3 separate regions of the Homo sapiens genome follow, and regions 1 and 3 are each linked to region 2. The links come from fine-mapping of genetic effects on gene expression. A gene starts in region 2. Each other region holds a variant in brackets. All regions are shown on one strand. Distances are from middle to middle.

Evidence for each region.
Region 1: its variant is fine-mapped to the expression of PTGS1 in whole blood (INTERVAL, PIP above 0.99).
Region 3: its variant is fine-mapped to the expression of PTGS1 in whole blood (TOPMed, PIP 0.98).

What each region holds. Positions count from the first base shown.
Region 1 is chr9:122,424,257-122,432,443 of GRCh38, reverse strand. No RefSeq gene overlaps it. Among named protein-coding and RNA genes, the nearest start is that of OR1J1, 50 kb to the left of the region's middle. The variant C/T (reference allele first, on the strand shown) is at 5,133.
Region 2 is chr9:122,366,193-122,374,379 of GRCh38, reverse strand. It overlaps PTGS1 (prostaglandin-endoperoxide synthase 1), which reads right to left and starts at 3,356. Exons shown (of 11, transcript NM_000962.4): 1 at 3,289-3,356; 2 at 3,108-3,194. The coding sequence starts at 3,295.
Region 3 is chr9:122,398,743-122,406,910 of GRCh38, reverse strand. It overlaps LOC124902264 (a long non-coding RNA gene), which reads left to right and starts at 3,616. Exons shown (of 2, transcript XR_007061758.1): 1 at 3,616-3,727; 2 at 5,678-5,941. RefSeq lists an enhancer at 3,718-4,917. The variant G/A (reference allele first, on the strand shown) is at 3,396.

The sequences.
Region 1 (8,187 bases), 58 kb before region 2:
AGGAATTCATCATTTTCTGTATTTTTGTTCATTTACATAGTTTTACATTTACACTCTAAAAGTAAAAAAGTAACCACTGTTAGGGAGGGAGCAATATTCTCTTATGACTTTCTACATCCTAAATGGAAGTAGAAGTCTAAAGTTGTCCTCATTAAAGTATACGTATATTAATATTATATAGTATGTGTGTATATATGTGTGTGTGTATATATATTATAACATATATATCATTAACTTTTATATATGTATATCTTATTTTATATATATATATCTTACTAATTTTATTCCTCAATATTAATCAGGGCTCTCCAAAGAAACAGAATCAATAGGATAAATATAACAGAAGATTCATTATGGGAATTGGCTCATGTGATTATGAGCCCCAGGTCCCTCTATCCGCTGTCTGCAAGCTGGAAAACCAGGGATGCCTGGTGTAATTCAGTCTGTGTCCAAAGGCCTGAAAACGAGGGAGGCCACTAGTGTAAGACCTGCAGTCCCAAGCCCTGAGAACCTGGAGCTCTGATGTCTAAGGGCAGGAGAAGATGGATGTCCCAGCTCTAGAAGAAAGAATGAATTTTCTCTTCTCCGCCTTTTTGTTCTATGCAGACTCCCAACTGATTGGATGATGCCCACCCACATTGGTGAAGGTGGACCTTCTTTACACTCAGTCCACTGATTCAAATGCTAATCTCTTTCAGAAACATCCTTATGGACACACTCAGAAATACTGTTTTAGCAAATACCTGGGTATCCCTTAAACCAGTCAAATTGATACATAAAATTAACCATCACAATTCCTAAGTAGCTTATCTTCTTGTGGTTCTGAATGGGATCATTTTTTCAGCTTAAGTCCACATCCACCATACAACGTGAGGTACTGTTTCAAGCTCCAATATAGTAAGTGGCTTGCAACAGATCAAAACCAAGTTGATCTTGCTTTATAAATCTAGAAGTGAGCCACCTAGGTATTAGCTGAGATCTTGGCCTCTACAAATTTATGTACCAAGTTCATGCCTCAGGCAAGTATTCCCATGTTCAATGTTTCTGTCTAGAAGCATCTGAAAGAATTTACAGCTTGTATGTCACTAAGCTTTTTTCAAAATGGAAATTTATAATAAGCTAAATTTCATGAGTTTCTTTGTGACCACCTCCTGGGTCTTGGTTTTTGTAGTAACCCTCATCAACTCACAAAGATAGTTCTGGGTTTGGTTTTTGTCATAACTCATCAACCTTACACAGGCAGTTTGACAACTTAGCAATCTCTTTTAACAGTCCCTTTAAACCAGATTATGGGGCAGCAGTTGTCTATGTCTGAAGGAGGTGAAGAAAATCTGAGAAAGACCACCTGCCCTCTCCTCCTATACATAGCACACAGGAGCACAGAGCATGCTGAGGTCTTGGGGCAGGACAGGCAAATGGAGAAGGAAACCTTCAGACACAGTAGGACTTCACTGAGTTCTATGCAGCAGCCACCAGAGCTGGGAAAGGAAGTAGGACAGCAAAGAGAGACCTCCACCTGAAGCACAAGCAGAGAGGGAGCTGTAGAACTGAGAAACACGCCACTATCACTCCAGGCCTCCACGGAATACAAGGCAGTTGCTGCCTATGGCTGGAGAAGAGGCTGAAGAGCTGAGAGAGAACCATCCTATTCACCAGGCAAAGGTATACTAGGCTGGCTGAAGGCTAAGGAAAGATCAGGAGAATTAAAAGAAACCCCACATTTATTCATACACAAGCCCTTCTTAAAGGAAAGTTACAATCTTGCCCTCATATCATTTGAAGTCAGTAGTGAACTGTATCTCACTAAAGCCACAACAAAGTCCAGACTACTCAACTCTAAATTAGTTTGACTCAGTTTCCCACACTGATAGCCACAATTAAACTGGATCATGTATTTTGGGGGGCCTAAATATTATTTATATATTCTCTGTTATTTTACACATATGAAAAATGGAGATGTGATCCACCAAGAGAGAAAATAATCAATATAACAAGACTCAAAGAGGACTTTATATGTTAGAATTATTAGAGAGGGACTTTAATATAACTATGATAAAAATATTAAAGGGTGTACTGAAAAAGATAGGCTACATGCTTGAACAGATGGAGAGTTTCAGAAGTGAAATTGAAACTTTTATAGTGTAGATATAATATATATTATATATAGTATATATTTATATACCACAAGTGTATATATTACATGTACTATACTATATATAACATATTTTATTACTGTACTATACTCTCTATATATTTACTATACTATATTTTTATACTATGTAATATCTACAAGCCAAATGGAAATGTTAGAAATAAAAAATACAATATCAGATAGAAAGATTTTTTACTATGTGTTTGTGCATCAAAACATCATGTCATATGCCTTAAATATATATCAAAAAAGAGAATAACTAATTTTGAAACAGAAAAAAAAATTTTTCAATGGGCTCCTCAGCAGATCGAACACAGCAGAAGAAAGAACCAATGAATTTGTAGCCATGTCAACAGAAATTACACAGACTGAAACACAAGATGGGGGAAATAATGCATTTGGTAAATGGAGGACAATAGAAAATGGTATAACATCTAAAATTGAAAGTCAAGAATGAGAAAGGAAAGAAAATGTGGCAGAAGAAATATTTGAAAAGATGATGGTTAAGACTTTTCCCAGAGATCCAAAGAACTCATTGAAACCCAAGGAGGATAAATACAAAGGAAACCATATGTAATGCTCACTACCTGGGTGTAATGCCCATGTAATGAACATGCACATGTACCCCTGTATCTAAAATAAAAGTTGAAGTTAAAAAATAATAAAACTGGCCAGGCACAGTAGCTCATATCTGTAATCCCAGCACTTGGGGAGGCCAAGGCAGGGGGGTCCCTTGAGCTTAGGAGTTCAAGACCAGCCTAGGCAAGATAGGATACCTTGTCTTCACAAAAAAATAAAAACAATAAACAATAATAATAAAATAAAACAACAAAAATGAAAACATATGTAGGCATACCAGTAAAATGTAGCATACGTCGGCATACCAGTAAAACCAAAGGCAAGAAGATATTCTTGAAAACAGCCACAGGAAATAAGGCATATCCTATGCAAGGGAAAAGGGATGAGGAGATAAAAATAATTTCTGAGTTTTTATCAGAAATACTGAAAGTCAGAAGACAATGGAGCATCAACTTTAAAGTGCTTTAAAAATAAGCCAAAAAAAACCCTATCAACCTAGAATCTTATATCTAGCAAAAATATCCTTTAAATCTGAAAGCAAATGAAGAGATGTTTAGACAAAAACTAAGATAATTTGTTCCCACCAGACCCACACTACAGGAAATGCTAAAAGAAGTGTATTAGGCTAAAGGGAAATGACATCAGGTAGAAATATGAATCTACAGGAAGGAAAGAAAGGCACTAGATAAAATAAAATGTAGGTAAATATAAAGGACCTTTTTTAAAAAATTACATTTGTAATTATATAGAAATGAATTGTAAATATGTTTATAATCATATATAACATCTTTAAATCTCTTTAGACAACTGTTGACTATTGAAAGTAAGAAATGATAACAATGGATCATGTGGTTTATGACATCTGTAGAAATAAAACATGATATTAAGAGTACAAAGGCTGGGAAGAGGAATCACAAGTGTACTGTTATGAGGTGCTTACATTATTTGTAATTTGGTAGAACATCTTTTGAAGGTAGACTGTGATAGTTGAAAGTGAAGATTATAATCTCTAGAGTAATCACAAACACAGAGGCATAACTAAAAAGAGATAAAGAGGAGATAAAAGAGAATACTTTAAAAAATAATAATCAATCCACCCAAAGGGAGGCAAGAAAGGAAAAACAGATGAACGAAAAGCATACACAACAAATAGAAAACAAAGGCCAAGGCTGAGTGCGGTGGCTCACGTCTATAATCCTAGCACTTCGGGAGGCCAAGGCAGGCAGATCACCTGAGGTCAGCAGTTTGAGATCAGACTGGCCAACATTGTGAAAGCCCATCTCTACTAAAAATACAAAAATTAGCTGGGTGTAGTGGTGCGCACCTTTAATTCCAACTACTCGCGAGGCTGAGGCAGGAGAATCACTCGAACCCGGGAGACAGAGGCTGCAGCGAGCAGAGATTGCACCACTGCACTCCAGCCTGGGCGACAGAGTGAGGTTCTGAAGAAAGAAAGAAAGGAAAGAAAGAGAGAGAGAGAGAGAGAGAAGGAAGGAAGGAAGGAAGGAAGGAAGGGGGAAGGAAGGAAGGAATAAAGAAGAAAGAAAGAAGAAAGAAAGAAAGAAAAAAAGAAAGAAAGAAAGAAAAAAAGAAAAGAAAAGAAAGGCCAAAATTAAAAAGTAGGTTTAAACTCAAAACTATCACCAATTACATCAAACGCAGATATTCTAACTACCTCCTTCCCAGAGGCTTAAAAAACAAAGATTATCACCATGGTTTTAAAAAGTTCCAACTAAATGCTTTCTACAAGAAATATAAATTAACCTAAAGATAGAGAAGAGTACTGGGAACAGAGCCAATTCTGCAGGGTTGTTTTTTTTTTTTTTTTTCAGTTCATGCATGAAAACTTCATTATGGACAAACACTGATCCACAGACTAACACTTGAGATGCCTTGGTGTAGAATACACTGGAATCTGGGAGTTCATTCAAAAGTTACGTAGTTTAAGGTTAAGATTTTATTTGGGTCCTGGAACACGTTCGGTGGGTGCTGTCTCAGCTCACCTGGAAGCAGATGTCTGATGGCCTTATTTCTAGGCACAAGTCCTCATTAGTCTCCTCAGCTTTATAAAGATAATAATAATATCATTTATTGAACACTTACTATACTCTTGTTATTGTGTTACATACTTTACTTGTGTAAACATATTTAATCCCAACGACAACCCTACAAGACAGATACTGATGTTATTCACATTTTATAGATGAGAACCTGGAGACTTGGTGAAATTTTTAACTTGTTTATTACTGCACAGTTAGTTGAGTTATGGAGTTAGAATCTGAAACATCTGTCTGACTGAAAGCCCTGCACTAAATACTAGTGTGTTGTTTGATTGCCAACTCTAAATAGGATTCACCTCTACTTGATTGATAATAGACACCAGCCGCAGCTTAGGTATCAA[C/T]GAGGGACTATTAGTTGGTGGTCACTGATACTCAGTGTTTACCAAAAGTTTAACTAAAAGAAAATATATTTAGGGAAGCTTGCTCAAAGGACATGCAGGTCATCCATACCTACCTGCAAGACTAAAATCCAATATGTTGTCCACCCAAACCACTGGAAATCTGAGCACCTAGACAGCATTCTTTTTGCCTCTGAGCTATTGTTTACTGTGAATTTTTACACCCCAATTTGATTGCCAAAGCCTACATTAAGACGGATTAAAAGAAACCCCATGCAATGTGTCTGTTCTTAGAACCGCAGATGATATAATTTCACCTAATCAAGTGGTTTATTTTTACTTTTGGTCCCAGTGAACTGTGTGACTGACCAGAAAGCCTGAGCCAAATCTGAGGCCCACCCATAACAACAGTCATCATAATCTGCATTTTCAGAGTCATTCCTGGCTCAATTTTATGTCTCCACCCTTGTTTATCCCCCCTTTTGTTCTTTTTCTAACCTCATTTTCCATTTATCTTATCTTGTATTTTATACGTATTTCCAAGCTTCCTTAAATTCTTCAGGAATAAGACTTGGCATAAATATAAATAAATTTGAGGAAATCTACCAAAATGTAGAAACAGTGGTTACCTCTGGATAGCAAAAGTATAGATTTTTTTAAATCTGCATCTTCATAAAGGATCTCATGCCCTGACCATAAACATTCTTTCTTTTATAAGTATGAAGACATATTTCTAATTACAGATAAACTGTAAAATTCTAATTTTTTGTTATGAATATTGGTAAAAATGTAGTCCATTAATAGAGACTGAAGGTAAAGACGGTGATATTCATCAGGAGAGAGACTATATAGTTGATTTGATGTATCAAATTGGCTGAGCCATGGTAACAAGGTGTTTGGTCAAACATTATTCTATGTGTTTCTGTGAAAGTGTTTTTTTGGCAATTCCTGACCTACTGGTTCAATGAAATCTCAATCAAAATTCTATTGGGCTCTTTTGTAAGTTGAAAATTTTAAAATAAAATTTATATGGAAATGGCAAAAAACCTAGAAGAACCTAAATAACTTTGGGGGAGGAAAGAAGACCCACACCATGCAATTCAAGACTTACTAAGCTATAATAATCAAGACAGTGTACTTTTGGTTTTAAAGCTCAATCAAACAAGAGTTCAGAAATAGATCTACAGTTATATGGTCAATTGATTTTTGACAAAAATTCCAATGCAATAGAGAAAGGACAGTTTTTCAACAACTGATGCTGGAACAATTGGATATCCATATAAAAAAATCAATCCTTAACTCACACCATATATATAAATTAATTCAAAATGGATCATGGACTTAAATGTAAGAGCTAAAACTGTAAAACTTATAGAAGAAAACAAAAGAAAAGCTTTGTAACCTTGGATTAGGCAAATAATTTTCACATAAGAAACAAAAAGCAAAAACCATAATAGAAAAAAACTGCTAAATTCAGCATCATCAAAATTTTAAACTTCTGCTGTTTGAAAGATACTGTTAAGAGAATGTAAAGACAAGCCACAGGCTGGGAGAAAATGTTTGCAAAACACATACCTAATAAAGACTTTATCTAGAAAAAAGAACTCTCACAATCAATTATAAGACAAATAGCTCAAATAGTGGGCAAAGGATCTGAACAGACACTTAATCAAAGAAGATATACAGATGGCAAATAAGCACATGAAAAGATGCTTGACACCACTGGTCATTAGGGAAATGCAAATCAAAACCACAATGAAATACCACTACACATCACTAAAATGGCTAATACCAAGCTCTGGTGAGAGAAGCACCTGGAAATTGTATCCATTGCAAAATGGAGCAGCCCTTTTTGAAAACAGTTTAGCAGTTTCTTTAAAAGTTTAACACATACCTACCATACAACCCAGCAATCCTATCCCTAGGTATTTACCCAAAAGACAAGGAACCATATGTTCACACAAAGAACTGTATGCCAATGTTTAGAGCAGCTTTATTCACAGTAGCCAAACAGTGGAGACAGTCCACCAATGATGAATGGATAACCAAATTGTGGTACATCCATATGCAGCAATAAAAATGAACGAATTACTTATATGTGCAACAACTTGGAAGAATCTCAAAAAAAGTATGCAAAATCAAAGAAGCTGGACCAAAAAAAGGCTACATCTTATATCATTCTAATTGTATGACATTCAGGAAAAGGAAGCAGGAAATCAGATCACCGTTTGCCTGGGGCTAGGAGTGGCAGAAGGATAGTGACTACCAATGGGTAGGAGAGAACTTTTGTGGCAATAAGAATATTGTGTATCTTCATTGTAGTTGTTACATAACGGCATACTGTTGTCAAAACTCATCAAATGGAATACTTCCTATGAATAAATGCTATTGTTCATAAATTATGCTTTAGAAAACTTAATTTTAGAAAAAACACTTTGTAGAAAATAAAAGTTATATTTTAGAACTTAGGCTATGGAAAGATTTTCTAAATAAGATCAAAATGTAGCAAAAACAAAATATTGATAAAGTTGGCTCACATTAAAGCCAAAATCTTTGCAATAATCTGACTACAAGACTATGTGAACTGGTCCTGTGGCCATTCTGACCTCAGCTCCTGCCCCTCTTTATTCATTCAGCCCAGTCCAGCCATACTGGTCTGTTATTCCTTAAATACATCAGGTGCACTACTACCTCAGTGCTCTCACCAATCTCATTCTATAATGTTATGCCTCCTTCAACACAGAGGATATCACTGAGGTTGACTATGGCCATGCAAGACCCATCTCCCCCAACTTGGTCCCTCAATTCTAGGTGTCATTCCCAATCAGACCCAGGTAGGTCCTACTTTTTGGACTTGGAAGGGGGGCAGACGAGCCTGAGAGAGAAGTGCCTGTTTCTCCAGTATTCTGAATTGGTGACAGCCAAAGGCCGTGTTTCCAATGAAGATACTGATCCATGGAGAGACTACGCTTAATTTTTAATTACTGCTCCCTTAGAAGAAGACAAACTTTTAACCACATATGCCACTTAATTAAACCACAGAGATCTTCTCTGCATG
Region 2 (8,187 bases):
CCCATGAAGGGGGTTTAGCAGGCGGGCTAAAGGAGGCCTTCCTTTCGACGTCCAGGCCCTCTACTCTGGGTAGAGCCAATCTGTCCCTCTCCATTATTTGTATCAATACAACCCTCCCACAACTGCCCCATCAGCAGAGAACCTTCCCATTTGCTCTCACTGAGTCCCCAAGACACGCGGAGGCAGAGATGATCAGCACACCACGCTGCATGCCAGACACACGCAGCCCAAAGGCCAAGCTGCTAGTCCCCATCCCCACAGATGAGGACTGTCCAGAACTGCCTGGTTCCAGGACCTTTCCAAGGGTTTGGGCAAGGAACACCCCCTAGCCCAAAAGTCAGGGCTCCAGGTCCAGGACTGAGCGTGACTAGGGGACAGGCACAGCCAGGGAACACCAAGTCCTCCAGGATGCAGAGGTGTCAGGCTGCAAGATTGCCCAGTGAAGAGGCAGGACCCAAATCCCCTAAAGAGTAATATTTAGAGAGTCTCTGGGGACCTGGCAGCCAGAGAGAAAAAAAAAAAAGGTGGGGAACCCTGACTGGTTTGGCCTGGGCCCCAGTCCCCACACCTAAGCACCACCACACCAGATCCAGACAACTGGGCCCAGCAGCTGGAAGAGCCTGCTGGTGGGGAAGCCCTCTCCCGGCCCACAGACCCAACTGGTGCTGGCGAGAGCAGGTGCAGGCACCCGGGCAGCCTTGGCACAGCTGGCATCTTGCCCCATGTGCCCGGGTCAGCTGGCCTGGGGCTCCTCTGCCTGGCATGCAGCTCTGGTTGCCAGGTCATGCCCTATCCCCATCTAGAAGATGGGCACTGAGTCAAGTCCAGAGACTAGAGGGGAAGTACTTGAGCATTCAGGGCGCCCCCGGCACAGCCTTGCCTCCAGGCTGGCCTCCATCTCCTCACCCACCAGAGAGGCAAAAGCAGCATTCTCTCCCTCCGCCTGCCCTCTTAGGTGAGTGCAGCCCTCATCTCTTCATCTCCTTTGCCTCTAGAGGTAAAAGACAGGCTTTGGCTTCCTGGGGCAGATGCCCAAGTAGCTTGGCCCTCAGTTTACTCGCAGACTTGGAAATATGAGGGCAACCCAGACCTTCTGCCCCTGCACTCCACCAGTCATTCGTTCTTTCCTAGATCCTTGCAGGAGCCTCGGTACCAGTTTTCTGGCCTCCAGTCTCATCCCCACATTACGCATCCAACCTCAGCCTCCTGCTCCACATTACCCTTACGGTGTTTCCTGGTCGAGTCTCTTAGTGTTTCCCCCACCCGCCACCTCCTTCGAGGTCCAGTCCAAAAGTCATCAGATCCAAGAAGCCTCCCTCAATTCTTCGCACTGAGAGGCAGCTGCTCCCTCCCCTGAGCTCCGCACACCCCTGCTCCCTTCCCTGGGCTCCCTATACCCCTGCTTCCTCCCATGAGCTCCGCACAGCCCTGGTCCCCTTGGATGACAGTCTGTTGGCATTTCTGGCTCCACCATCAGCCTGTCAGCTCCTCCCAGCTCCGTGTCTCCAGGCCCCAGCCAAAGACTGGCATAAATAACCCTTGGGGATAAAAAAAAACAATTCCGTGTAAACATTTATTATACAAAAGGAAACAGAAAAGGCAAAAAACAAAATAGCACAGACCATGGCTCATTGTGCATTAGTGAATGGACTAAAAAAGAATACAGACGGGTGGGACCTGTATACCAAGAGTGCCTGGATGAGGCCAGATGGGGCCTCAGAGGAAGTGCTGGGCTGATCCAGGGACTGACAAGATGGGTCAGCGAGGCAACCTGAAGAGCCCCTTCTACTCCCCACCACCAGCTCACTGTGAGGATTCAGACAAGTGGCTTCACTCCCTCTGGGCCTCAGAGTCCCCTTCTGTAGACTGGGTCTAACGCATCTCTCTGGCAGGGCTGTTGAGAGCACCAAAGAGGTGGATGTCCACAACCAACCTTTGTAAACTTTAAAGTGCTGGCCACATGAGTCTTCCTCCTCCTCTTCCCATAAACCAGACTTTTATTCAACGCAATCCCTTTCCTAGAGCACCCTCCGTCCTCTCTTTGGGTCCCCTAAATGCCACCCACCCAAAGCCCGTTTCAGGAAACTTGGTCTGATCCAAAATCCATGTACATATCTTTCCTCTTTCCCCCACGCACCAGATCCTTAGAGCATCACAGCAGAAAGTGCGGACTCCCTCTGCTCCCTCCTGCCCTCTCTGGGCCTCATTTTAGAGATTTTACACAGCTAGGTGGTGGAGGAAACTATATCCAACTGGGACACATGCTCACACACACGCACACACACAAGCAGCGAGCTGGGGGAGGAAGGTTGGCTGAGCGAGGAGCTGAATTCCTTCACCTGGAACCTGGCACATGCATGGGGGAGGGAAGGGCGGAATTTCCCCATCAACCTCCCCCATGAAACCCAGAGTGGCTCCGGGTCCATTGTGGGTAGAAGCAGCTTTCTGTGGAAAGACCTTGCGAAGTGTGTGGACGCAGACAGACCTGAGTTCAGATCCTGGGCCCACCATGTATTTTGTGAGCTTGGGGAATCATGGCACCTACTGAGCCTCGGTTTCCTCATTTGCTCAATGGGGATCTCTTAAACCCCAGATGAAGCATCCCGGCTCCTAAATGTATTTCCATCTCCCATGTTCTCCCGAAGTCTTCACCAGGGGAGACCTTCTCCACTGGCAATGGGAATCAGGATGGGTTCCCAGACGGTTAGAGGCTGGAGAAAGGGAACTCATTTCCCTTGGTGCCTGCGGCTTCCTCCCAAAGAGGCCCCTATAGGAAACAGCGGGGTTGTTGGGTGCAGAGGCTGCTTAGACATCTGGGGCCCAGAACAGGTGAGGGGGATGGATAGGGACTGTCCCTTCTCCCCAAGTTGGCACCAGATCCCAGTCTGCTGTTTCCCCTGAAAGAACTAGATAGCCCATTAGCCAAGGCCACACCGCCGGGGGGGCTTCAGGGAGCCCCCATCCCACCAAAAGACTCAGCCTCAGTCTTTCTCAGCACCGCGAGCAGAAAGGGGAAGCTGGGCCCGCTGGAGGGGAAAGGAGGGGGTTGAAACCAGGCCAGGGGCGCAAGACCGGGGATTCCCTTGGGGAGGGATGGGGCCGCCTACCTGGCGTGGGCGCCCCTGGGTCCGCGAGCAGGACGGGGAGCGGCGGGAGCAGGAGCAGGAACAGCAAGAACCAGAGCAAGAGACTCCCTGCAGAGGAGAGAGATGAGGGGCTGAGCCTGGCATTCAAGGCTCCACCAGGAGGCCAAGAAAATTCCCCACCGGGCACCGGGGTCGCACTCACGGCTCATGGCGCGGCTGCTGGGGTGCGGGACGCAGAGTGCAGGCTCCTGTGCGTGCGCCTCGCACACTGCCCGGAGCTCCAGCCCATCCCCTCCCCACCCTTCCCCCGGCTCCACCCCCGCTCCTCCCTCCAGCTGTCACCTCGGCTGCCCGCTTACTTCCTCTGCCCAGCCCCGGCCAAGGCATTTTATTAATTAGTGTATGCTCGCCGCTAAAGCGGCTTTTCACCCAAGATCCTTGAAGCACTTACGTTTCTGATGCCTGGTGGCACTAGATATAGACAGGAAACTGAGGCTCAGAGACGATGCTCAATGCTGAGGTCACCCAGGGCTTAGGGACAGAACTGGGGATGGAAGCGGCTCGTCTGAACCACATACCCTGCCCCGCAGAGAAGAAAGGGTCTCAGAGTCCCCTTCTGTAAAATGGGTCTAACGCACTCTACAGAAAAGGGTAGAGAAGAAAAGGGGCTAGAAACAGGGCAGTCTGCAGAGAAGAAAGGGGGCTAGAAATGGGGCAGTCCAGCCTGGCCTGCTGATGGTTTCCTAGATGAGAAACTCACTACTCCTCAGACAGATCTAACAGGAAGGACTTACTTCCCCCATGGGCTGGGCTCCGCCCCCTGAAGCCACAGGTCTCTGCCAGAAATGAAAAGACCGGGCTCCAAACTCCAAGAGAGCCTAGTTCAAATCCAGACTCCACAGCTTACTGGCCGTGTCACCTTGGACAAGGTACTTATCTTTTCTAGCCCTCAGTATTCTCATCTATAAAATCGGCTTAATAGCAAAAACCATCCCAGAGGGTGGTTGTAAGATTCAATGAGGGAATGCACACAAATCTCCTGGTGCAGTGTCCAGCATGTAGTAGGTGCTCAGTTATCGGAAGGCATTTTTTCAAAGATCTCTGAACTCAGATTCCAGGGCTGGCCAGGGTCCATGCTGTAGCTAGACTCACATCCACCGCCGAATTTATAGAATCCCAGCATCCAGCTCTCCTTTTCGCCAGCTCAGGAAGCACCTAGAAGGAGGAAGGAATAGGTCCAAGATCACCCAAAGTCCCATGGTGCTGGCACCCACAAGTCATCTCCCTCAGTTTCCCCAGCACACCCAGCCATCCTGTGGGCCCCACAGTGGGGAAAGCCGGCAGGAGAGCTCAGAGGTTCTTGTGCTGGCTCCTGGGCATCACTGGGTGCAGGGTAGAAATTATGCCAGGTGGGAGAGGTGAAACCTGCTGGGAAGCCCCTCCCCCATTCTCACCCAAGCTGTTCCCATGCTCCCCTGGGACAAAAGCCAGCTGCCCTAGGGAGACAGAGCAAGCCAGGGCAGACCTGGAGAAGGAGTGGGGCATTGGAGGGCCCTGGGGCTCTCAGGGTGCCGGGACCGGCTTCAGCCTTCCCTTCCTCCCCAAATCAAGGGCCCCCTAGCATTTACAGGGCAAGGAGATGGGATTATCAGCAAAAGGGATGGGGACAGGGTGGAGGTGTGGGGGTCCAGTTGTCCAAAGAAAGGGGGAGTTTCTGGTGAGAAGAAAGGAGAGACGGGCTTGAATGAGGTTCCATCTTCCACTCCCAGGCCCTCCCTCCCTTTGGGCCCTGAGCCCATCAAGTCACCACACCTGTGCCTCCTGCTGACTTCCAAGCCACCCATCTGCACTCAAAACAAGAAACACTTGTGTGGCCCTGGCACTGATGGGAAGAGCCTTCACCTCAGAATCAGAAGTGAGTTCAAGTCACTTCTTCCATAGCGTGACCTTAAACAAGCCGCTAGGCCTCACTGGGCCTCTGTTTCCCCATTTGAACAACAGAATGAGCAGATCAGATGGTCTCTGAGGACTGGTCCAGTTCCAGCATGGAGCAATTGAGCCCTCACTGCAGCCAGGCTCTGTGACCAGCACCACAGATCTCAACACAGCTGCAATACAGGAGAGGATGGAGTCTGAGAGAGCAGGCAGGGTGCCGAGGCAGCCCTCCAGGGATGAGGCAGGACCAAGAGCATGGAGTGGGGAGAAGGTAGATGAGAGAAATGGTGGCAGAAGTGCCAGGGCTTGGTGACCGATTAGCACTAGAGCTTAGGGGAAGAAAGGTGCTGAGGACACCTAGCCTTCTGGCTCAATGCTGGTGGTAATATCCAGGGAAGGGGAGCTGGCATGGGTAGGTGGAATTTGAATTTGGGCTTCTTGTATTTGATCCACTTCAAGGAATGAGGAGGATCAAACCTTCCCTGCCTTCTCCAGCTTGGCCCATGGGCCAGCACCCCCAACCGCCCCAGCATGCAGCTGGATACACAGGGGAGAGGTCTGGGGTAGCCCTTGCCCCAGCCCTGGGAAAGAGACCACAGCACAGGGCCACCTTTTCCTGCTCCCTACTGCAAAGCTATAGTCTAAATGCCTAGGACTGGTGTCACCATCCTAGTCCTCAAGATTGTGAGCTTCCACTTATAGGGCAAGTCCACCTCCCATGTCCCCTGGTAGGCCTCCTCTAACATGCCTCCTCCTCCCCCTTCTCTCCTCTAGGAAGCCCCTGTGCCTTCCCTGGCCACAGCAGTGCCACTCCTGATCACATTGTCCCTCTGCCCCCAAACATTATGAGGCTATAAGAGTCCTGGTCACTCTTGTAGCCCCAAGGCCAAGCATAGGATCTGGCGGATAAAAGACATCCAGGGAATGTTTGTTGCTTGAACAAAGAAATGAATGAGTATCTAAAAGAGTAGTGAATGCATTAAAAAAACAGACCAGGTCCAGCACCAGCCTCATCGAAGTGACTGCCAACCACCCATCTGCTGTGACGGCCACCAAAAGTATCACTGCCTGCCTCAGTTTCCCTGCCTTCTCCAGCTTGTCCCATGGGCCAGCACCCCCAGCTGTCCCACAGGCCCAGCTTCACCCCAGGCCCTGAGCCCTTCCCAGCTAAGGCAGCAAGGACCTCCTTCCCTATACCCCACTGGTAACAAGGGATAGGATTTCTCTCTGCATAGCCCCCTCCCCATTATCCACACCAATCACGTGCCCTCCTGCTCACCCTAGCTACAGCCTGGATTGTAATGCTCCTGGAGAGGTCTCACTCCTGCTGGGCCCCACCCACTATTTGGAAAACCAGAGCTGACTCTTACCTGAATCACTCATGGACCCAGCCCCACCCGGCCCCACCTGTGTAGGCAGCTTCTCAGTCAGGCAGGAAGGCTCTGGACTCAATCCAATATCTCTTCAAATCCCAGTCCTCCACCCCACCTGACCTCTCAGTGTGACCTTAAGCAGCAAACTGCCCTTTGTGGACCTCAGTTCCCCCACCTGTAAAAACGTGGTTAATAATGCCACTCTTGCAAGAGTTGTTGTGAGGATGAAGTAAGATAGTCCCTGTGAGCATCCCCAGCATTCAGTAGGAGCTCAATGCTAGTTCTTTATTGGCCCTCGCTTCTACTCCCTACCTGAGCAAGAGGGTTGCATGAAAAATTCCCTTCCTCCTCCTCTTTACCTACTCAGAACCAGGCTAGGGTTGACCATTGGAGGTAATAATAATAATGGCTAATATTTCTTGAATATCTACTATGTGCAGGGTAGAATGCTATGTGTTTTAAATGCACTGTTACATGTGATTTTTCTCAACAACCTTATAAAGTCAGTATCATCACTTCCATTTACAGAGAAAGAAAGTGAGGCCCAGTGTTGAAGCAGCTTGTCCAAGATGCACAACCAGTAAGAGTCAGGTTTCAAGGCCCAACCCTTTTGTTCTGGAATACCGGGTACCTGTACCCAAGCCCCAGCATAACCAACGAGTGTTTGAAGTTAAAAGGAAACAGAAAGGCTCGCTAGGGTGGTAGTCGGCTTGTGGAGCGATGTGTGGGATCCAATTTAAGCAACATAGTTCAGCTGAGAAGCTGAGAACTGAGAGTCACAAAATAATGTTTTGGTTTTGGTTTTGGTTATTTTTTGTCAGGGTCTCACTCTGTTGCCCAGGCTGGACTGCAGTGGTGCGAACTTGGCTCACTTCAGCCTTGATCTCCTGGGCTCAGGTGATCCTCCTACCGCAGCCTCCTGAGTAGCTGGAACTACCGGGTGCATATCACTATGCCCAGCTAATTTTGTTTTATTTGTTTTTTTGTAGAGACGGGGGTCTCACTATGTAGCCCAGGCTGGTCTTGAACTCCTGGGCTCAAGTGATCCTCCCACACTGGCCTCCCAAAGTGCTGGGATTACAGGCATGAGCTACCACACCCGGCCTACCAAATGCGTTTACATCCCTTTCTCATGGAAACCCTCACAATTGCTGGAAGAAGAAGGTATCATGATCCCCATTGTGCAAAGAGGAAAATGAGGCTCAAAGATGTCCGTAGATTATGCAGAGAGGAAGAAAAGTGGGAGGAGTTTTAACCACTTCTGGGGCACTTACCATGTGGCAGACATTATGCTAAAGATTTTTGGTGCATCATCCCCTTTATAACTCCTAACAGCCCCATGAGGTAGATGTTCCTCTTGTCTCCATTTTTATAAACAGGAAAATTAACTGACTTGCTATAGCCTATACCACAGGCTATATATGGGTGGTAGAGCTGGGATTTGAGCCATGGCCTGTATGATTTCAACATTTACAAGTGTAACTCCCTATTACGCTCATCGCTGGTTATCTTGGATCTCAAACCCTGAATCCTTAAACAAACACCCAAATCCTGCCAGGAATGGGCCAAGAAGATAAACAAGCAGGAGACTCTAAGTGGAGAGTCCCCAAGTTCATCTGGGGAGTTTCCACTGCAGGTGCCCTGTCCCGCAGACCTCTCCACTAGACAGCCAGCACCATCTGCTTGGCACAGGATGGCTGAGTGGTCACACCATGGCATCCTCCCCAGCCAGCCCCCACCATCAGTGTAATCCGCAGAGCCTCAGACATCAGCTCCTGGGATCAGGGGACTCA
Region 3 (8,168 bases), 33 kb before region 2:
CTGGGCATCAGAATGAGACCCTGTCTCTTTAAAAAATTAATTAAAGAATATATATAGTATGATGCCATTCGTATGAAGTTCAAGAACAGGCTAAACTATCTACAGTGCTAGAAGTCAGACTAGCAGTTACCTCTTTAGGTTAAAAAAAGTTCAAGGTAGGCCAGGTACTGTGGCTTACACCTGTAATCGTGGTGAGAGGTGACAGCGTGCTGGCAGTTCTCGCAGCTCTCGCTCGCTCCCGGCGCCTCGTCTGCCTGAGTTCCCACTTTCGCGGGACTTGAGGAGCCCTTCAGCCCGCCGCTGCACTGTGGGAGCCCCTTCCTGGGCTGGCCGAGGCCGGAGCCGGCTCCCTCAGCTTGCGGGGAGGTGTGGAGGGAGAGGCGCAGGCGGGAACCGGGGCTGCGCACGGCGCTTGCGAGCAGGCGCCAGTTCCGGGTGGGCGGGCGCTCGGCGGGCCCCACACTCGGAGCGGCCAGCCGGCTCCACTGGCCCCCCGGCAGTGAGGGGCTTAGCACCTGGTCTAGCAGCTGCTGTGCTCGACTTCTCGCCGGGCCTTAGCTGCCTCCCCCCGGGGCAGGGTTCGGGCCCTGCAGCCCGCCATGCCTGAGCCGCCCCGCGCCGTGGGCTCCTGCGCCGCCCCAGCCTCCCCGTCGAGCGCCACCCCCTGCTCTACGGCGCCCAGTCCCATCGACCACCCAAGGGCTGAGGAGTGCAGGCGCACGGCGCGGGACTGGCAGGCAGCTCCACCTGCGGCCCCGCTGCGGGATCCACTGGATGAAGCCAGCTGGGCTCCTGCGTCTCGTGGGGACTTGGAGAACCTTTATGTCTAGCTAAGGGATTGTAAATACACCAATCAGTACCCTGTGTCTAGCTCAGGGTTTGTGAATGCACCAATCGACACTCGTATCTAGCTACTCTGGTGGGGAGTTGGAGAACCTCTATGTCTAGCTAAGGGATTATAAATACACTAATGGGCACTCTGTATCTAGCTCAAGGTTTGTAAACACACCAATCAGCACCCTGTGTCTAGCTCAGGGTTTGTGAATGCACCAATAGACACTCAGTATCTGGCTACTCTGGTGGGGACTTGGAGAACCCTTGTGTCCAGCTCAGGGATTGTAAACGCACCAATCAGCACCCTGTCAAAACGGACCAATCAGTGCTCTGTAAAACAGACCAATCAGCTCTGTAAAATGGACCAATCAGGAGGATGTGGGTGGGGCCAGATAAGAGACTAAAAGCAGGCCGCCTGCACCCCGGTGGCAACCTGCTAAGGTCTTGTTCCAACCCGTGGGTGCTTTGTTCTTTTGCTCTTTGCAGTAGATCTTGCTGCTGCTCACTGTTTGGGTCCACATTGCCTTTATGAGCTGTAACACTCACCTTGAAGATCTACAGCTTCACTCCTGAAGCCAGCGAGACCACGAACCCACCGGGAGGAACTAACAACTCCAGATGCACCGCCTTAAGAGCTGTAACCCTCACCGCGAAGGTCCACAGCTTCACTCCTGAGCCAGTGAGACCACGAACCCACCAGAAGGAACAAACTCTGAACACATTCGAACATCAGAAGGAACAAACTCTGGACATGCTGCCTTTAAGAACTGTAACACTCACCTTGAGGGTCCACGGCTTCATTCTTGAAGTCAGTGAGACCAAGAACCCACCAATTCCGGACACAGTGGCACTTTGGGAAACAGAGGCAGGAGGATTTCTTGAGCTCAGGAGTTCAAGACCAGCCTGGGCAACAGAGGGAGGCCCCATCTCTACAAAAAATAAAAATAGGCCAGGTACAGTTGCTCACACTTGTAATCCCAGCACTTTGGGAGGCCAAGGTGGGCAGATCACAAGGTCAGGAAATTGAGACCATCCTGGCCAACATGGTGAAACCCCATCTCTACTAAAAATGCAAAAATTAGCTGGGTGTGGTGGCGCGCACCTGTAGTCCCAGCTACTCAGTAGGCTGAGGCAGGAAAATCGCTTGAATCTGAGAGGCTGAGGTTGCAGTGAGGCAAGATTGCCCCACTGGACTCCAGCCTGGTGACAGAGCAAGACTCTGTCTTAAAAAAATAAATTAATTAAATTAATAAAAAATAAATTAGCCAGGTGTGGTTTTGCATACCTGTGGTCCCAGCTACTCAGGAGGCTGAGGTAGAAGGATTGCTTGAGGCTCAGAGGTCAAGGCTGTAGAGAGTTGCGATCACACACCTCTGCACTCCAGCTGGAATGACAGAGCAAGACCCTGTCTCAAAAAAAAAAAAGTTCAAGCTGTAAACTTGAGATGTGTGCATTTTAATGTAAGCAAAGTATGTCTCAATTTGCATTGTAAATTTATTTTTAAGCCACCTCACTATTAAGCCTTTGATGATTTTTCTGTCACTACTCTTCTACTAGCAAGGTTATGCCCACAGGTACCCCTGTGCTTTACCAATTTTTACACTGCTCAAAGTCCATCAATGGTGAGATTCCCTGCGTCCTCCCTAAACTGCTAACAATTAGTGTCCAGACCAGCTGCCATTTTGAATGGCAGCTACAAGTTCAGCTATATTTGTGAAGCACGATAAGTAAAAATAATCTACTGGAACACTTTGTTGGGGAACTTATGTTCCATATTTTTCCAAATCAGCAGAGACTCCACCTCTGAGCTCTTGTCTGGCTGAGTGATAAAGGCAATCAGATTCAGACCAATGACCAGAATGACCAGCTACTCAACAACAGTGATCATGCAGAGAGGCTCACAAAGCAAGGTTGTTTAAGAAACCCACACAATGCACAATGCTTGGTGGTCACTGACCTTTTCAAAGGTTTATGGAATTATTTGAGACTTGGAAGAAATAATTGTACTGTCCCAAAAACTTACAAAATGAAAGTTATAAATGTTTAATTAAATGTCTACAAAATGTATTATGTTAGTCAACTAAAACCTACCTCAACATATATATGTAAATTATACTAAATGTGCCATATGGCCACATTTTAACATGTTTGGTGTGAGGTAGGACGAGGCATCCAACACAGATTTGTCTTAATTGCATGAAGATCAGGAAAACGTGGCCTTGCTTGCATGTCATATGGTAGCTTTTCTGTTAAGTCTAATAAGCTCCTCCTTTTTTTGTGGACAGAGGTTGCAATTGCTTCCTTCGTTTCTGGAACCATAAGGGAAGTCAGCCTACATGGTCCTAGCAACCAAAAGCCCAAACTCTTGAAGAAAGAATCTTAGACAACAAGGCAGGAGAAACAGCCATCTGGTACCAGTTAGAACCTTTCCTTTCGTGAGACCCCCTCAGCCTGTGACACATTTGGAGTCACTTTATTTCTTACTCTGCTTGCCCTGTGTGCCATCCCAAGATGTCAACTAATAGTTTCTGGGGTCACAGATCCCAGAAAATTCCTGGAAC[G/A]TAAGTCATTTGAATGTGTGCTCACTGCGTTTTTTTGTTTGTTTTTTGTTACCACTGACCTTCAGGATGGAGTGGAAAGAATATTCTTTTGGAATGGAAAATATATGTGCTTAGGAGTTACCCAGACCTGCATCATTCATGTTTTGGTCATCATTTAGCAGTGGTTGGAAACAGCGCTGGGCTGGAGTGGGGGGTGGTTTTGTCCAGGTTCTACCACTTACGGGCTTTGTGACCTCACATAAATCTTTTCTCTCTGAGCCTCAATTATCTCATCTGTGAAATGGAAGGAAGAACCCCAGTTTCACAGAGCTGCTGGCATGAGAATTAATAAGGTATGCATATCATGATATTAGCACAATGCCTGGCATGTAGTGAATGCTGTTAACACTGTCAGACAGAAAGAAAGTTAATGGTTGCCAGGGGCTGGAGATGGAGAGTGACTGCTGAAAATGGTTATGGGGTTTCCTTTGGAATGATGAAAATGTTCTAGAACTAGGTATTGGTGATGGTTGCGCCACATTGTGAATATACTAAATGCCATTCAATTGCACGCTGTAAGGTGTTTAAAATGATCAACTTTACATTACATGTATTTTACCACAATGAAAGAAAAATAACTGGTAGACCGTCTTTTCTACCCCATAGGGTGAGTGTGGAGGAGGAGGAAATTAGGATCTGGCCTGAATCCCTCCCATAAGGGCAGGAACTGAGAATCAAGACAAGAGCAGATCCTTGAGCATCAGCCTGGTGAAGGAGGCAGAGCTTGGGTTGGGGCCTCACTGAGTGTGGCTCACTTGGTGAGGGAAGGGGTAAGGGCAAGTGGGCAGCAGGCAGGGAGAGAGATGGCACTGCTTTGAGATTTCAGATAACCAGTTATATGCAGTGAACGTCACTGAGGATGCAGAGTGTGAGTCATAGATTAGAAAGGAGACAGCAAGCGTGGAAAAAGTGAGTCATGGGGAGAGGAAAGAAAACGTCACTCATCTAAAGAGGAAAAGAATGACCAAAGGCAGCATGATACAGTGCAGAGGGCTCCCTCTGAGGCTTATGGATAGAATCATCTGGAAGTGCATCAATATCACCAATGCCTACCACCCTCCACTCCCCCATCCCTACTGTGATTCTGGTTCTAGATGATTTGGACAGGGCACATGGTGGGAAAAGGCCACGCTTTGGAATTTCATGTGACCTCCTACCACTTTGTAGCTGTATGACTCCAGACAGGTCACCTAATTTTTCTGTGTCTCAATTTCATCCTTTGTGAAACAGGAAAACCTACCTACAAAATTGTTAGGAGGAGTTAATACAATAGGCAGGTAAAATACATGCCCCAGAGTAGATGTCTGATAAATATATGCTCCCTTTCTCCTTCTCTAATGGTACGTGTACCCTCGTGAATCCACTTTCTCTTTCCATCAGTCCATGAAGCAAGAGAAGACACAAAGGGGAATTTTGAATAGAGAACTGGAACCATTTCCCATAATAAGTGTATGTAAAGATGATGTTTTAATTACAGCCCTCATTATAAGAGTTAAAATCGGCCTGGCGTGGTGGCTCATGTCTGTAATCCCAGCACTCTGGGAGGCCGAGGTGGGCGGATCACGAGGTCAGGAGATCGAGACCATCCTGGCTAACACGGTGAAACCCCGTCTCTACTAAAAATACAAAAAAATTAGCCAGGTGTGGTGGTGGGCACCTGTAGTCCCAGTTACTCGGGAGGCCGAGGCAGGAGAATGGCGTGAACCCGGAAGGTGGAGCTTGCAGTGAGCCAAGATCGCACCGCTGCACTCCAGCCTGGGCGACAGAGTGAGACTCCATCTCAAAAAAAAAAAAAAGAGTTAAAATCTACCATAGAGGGTAGTTTTATTCATAATAGTAAAAAAAATGGAAACAACCCAAATGTCCATCAACAGAAGACTAGATAAATCAACTGTGATATACGTTAATTACACAGCAATAAAAAGATCAAACTGCTGATATACACAGCAACATGGATGTCAACAAACGTTATGTTGAGCAAAAGAAGCCAAACACACAAAAAAGTACATACTTTATGACGCTATTCAAATGAAGTTCGTGAGTAGACAAAATTAATCAAAAGTGATAAAAGTGAAAATAGTGGTTACCTTTCAGTGGTTTTTGACTGGGAAGGAGCACAAAAGAGCCTTCTAGAGTGCTGGGAATGTTCTATATCTTGATTTCTATGGCGGTTTATACATGTGTAAAAATATGTCGAATTATGCACTTAAGATTAATGCTCTTTGCTGTATGTTATACTCCAGTTGAAGGCAGGAGGGAGACCGACCTGCCACAGAAACCTGCAAGGGTGTACTGCCACATCGTTCTGAAACCCAAGCTGCAATTGTACAAATGGCTCAAAATCCCTTTTGACTAAAGGATAAAGATTGAAAGCAAAAGACGTATTTTGACCAAGTGTGGAGGGAAACCAACTTTGAATGAAACACGAATAACAGATAAGATAGTGAAGAAAGTGCTTCACTGTGATTCTCTTAATAGTACTCAATAAAAGTATCTTTTAAGTTTTAGTATTTCTTTCTGTCATTCACACATAGCTGTTTTAATTTAGAGTCCATTTTTATAGGAAAAGCATGATAAAGTTGAAAAGTGGGTTGTAGGCGTGTCTAACATATTTTTGTGTGAGACATATTTTGTGTGTGGATACATAGCAGGTGTGTATATTTATGGGTTACATGAGATGTTTTGATACAGGCATGCAATGCATAATAATCATGTCAGGGCAAATGAGGTGTCTCTTCACTTTGTTGATTGTTTCCTTTGCTGTGCAGAAGCTTTTTAACTTGATGTGATCCCATTTATCCATTTTTGCTTTGGTTGCCTGTGCTTGTGAGGTATTACTCAAGAAATCTTTGCCCACTTCAATGTCCTAGAGAGTTTCCACAGAGTTTTTGCATAGTGGTTTTGTAGTTTGAGGTCTTAGATTTAAGCTTTTAATTCAAAATTTGATTTTATTTTTGTATATGGCAAGAGATAGGAGTCTAGTTTCATTCTTCTGCATATGGATATTCAGTTTTCCCAGCATCATTTATTGAAGATTAACTATCCTTTTCCCAATGTATGTTCTTAACAACTTTATCAAAAATGAGTTCCTGTAGGTGTATAGATCTATTTCTGGGTTCAGTAGTCTGTTTCATTAGTCTATGTGTCTGTTTTTATGCCAGTATAATGCTATTTTGGTTACTATATCTCTGTAGTATAATTTTAAGTCAGGTAATGCGATTCCTCCAGTTTTGTTCTTTTTGCTTAGGATAGCTTTGGCTATTCTGGGTCTTTCGTGGTTCTCTATAAATTCTAGGATTGTTTTTTCTGTTTATATGGAGAATGTCATTGGTATTTTGATAAGGATTGTATTGAATCTATAGACTGCTTTGGGTTGTATGGACATTTTAACAATGTTGATTCTTCCAATCTATGAATATGGAATATTTTTCTGTTTTTCGTGTGTCCTCTCCAATTTCTTTCATAGTGTTTTATTTTCCATTGTCAAGATCTTTCACTTCTTTGATTAATTTCCAGGTACTTAATTTTATTTGTAGCTATCGTAAATGGGATTACTATTTTCAGAATTTTCACTGTTTTCACATAGAAATGTTACTAATTCTTTCTTCTCTTTGATCAATTCTGCTATTAAGAGACTCTGATGCATTCTTTAGTAGTCAGTTGCATTTTTCAGCTTCAGAATTTCGGCTTGATTCTTTTTAATTATTTCAATATCTTGGTTAAATTGATCTGATAGGATTCTGAATTCCTTCTCTGTATTATCTTGTATTTCACTGAGTTTCCTCAAAATAGCTATTTCAAATTCTCTGTCTGAAAAGCCTAGAGGTGTAGATATATGACCTCTCTCTGAGAGATAGAGAAAGATCACATATTTCTATCTCTCTAGGATAAATCCCTGATGACTTATTTAGTTTGTTTAGTAAGGTCATGTTTTCTTGAGTGGTATTGATGCTTGTGGATGTTCACTGGTGTCTGGACATTGAAAAGTTAGATATTTGTGGTAGTCTTTGCAGTCTGGGCTTCTTGGGAAAGCCTTCTTGGGAAGGCTTTCCAGGTATTCGAAGGGACTTGGGTGTTGTCATCTAAGTTTTTGGTCACCATAGTCATATCAGCATTAGGAGGCACCCCAAGCCCAGTAATGCTGTGGCTCTTGCAGACTTGTAGAGGTACCACTTGATGGTCTTGGATAAGATCTGGAAGAATTGTCTGGATTACCAGGCAGATATTCTTGTTCTCTTCCCTTACTTTCTCCCAAACAGACAGAGTCTCTCTGTCTCTGTGCTGAGCTGCCTACAACTGGGGGAGGGGTGGCACAAGCACCCCTGTGGCCACCACCACTGGGACTGCACTAGGTCAGACCTGAAGCCAGCACAGCACTGTTTCTTACCCAAGGCCCATTATAACCACTACCTGGCTACCACCACCTTTGTTTACTCAAGGCTTTAGGGCTTTGCAGTTAGCAGGCAGTAAGTCAGCCAAGCTTGTGTCCTTCCCTTCAGGGCAGCGAGTTCCCCCAAGCAGGTCCGTAGATGCTGTTTGGGGACCAGAGCCTGGAGTTGAAAATCTTAAGAATCTGCCTTGTGTTCTATTCTACTGCAGCTGAGCTGCAGACAAAGCTACAAGTCAAGTCTTTCCCACTCATCCCTCCCCTTCCCACAGGCAGAGGAGTCTCTCCCCATGGCCAGCACCACCACAGGCCCATGGGGAGTACTGCCTGGCTACCACCAATGTTCA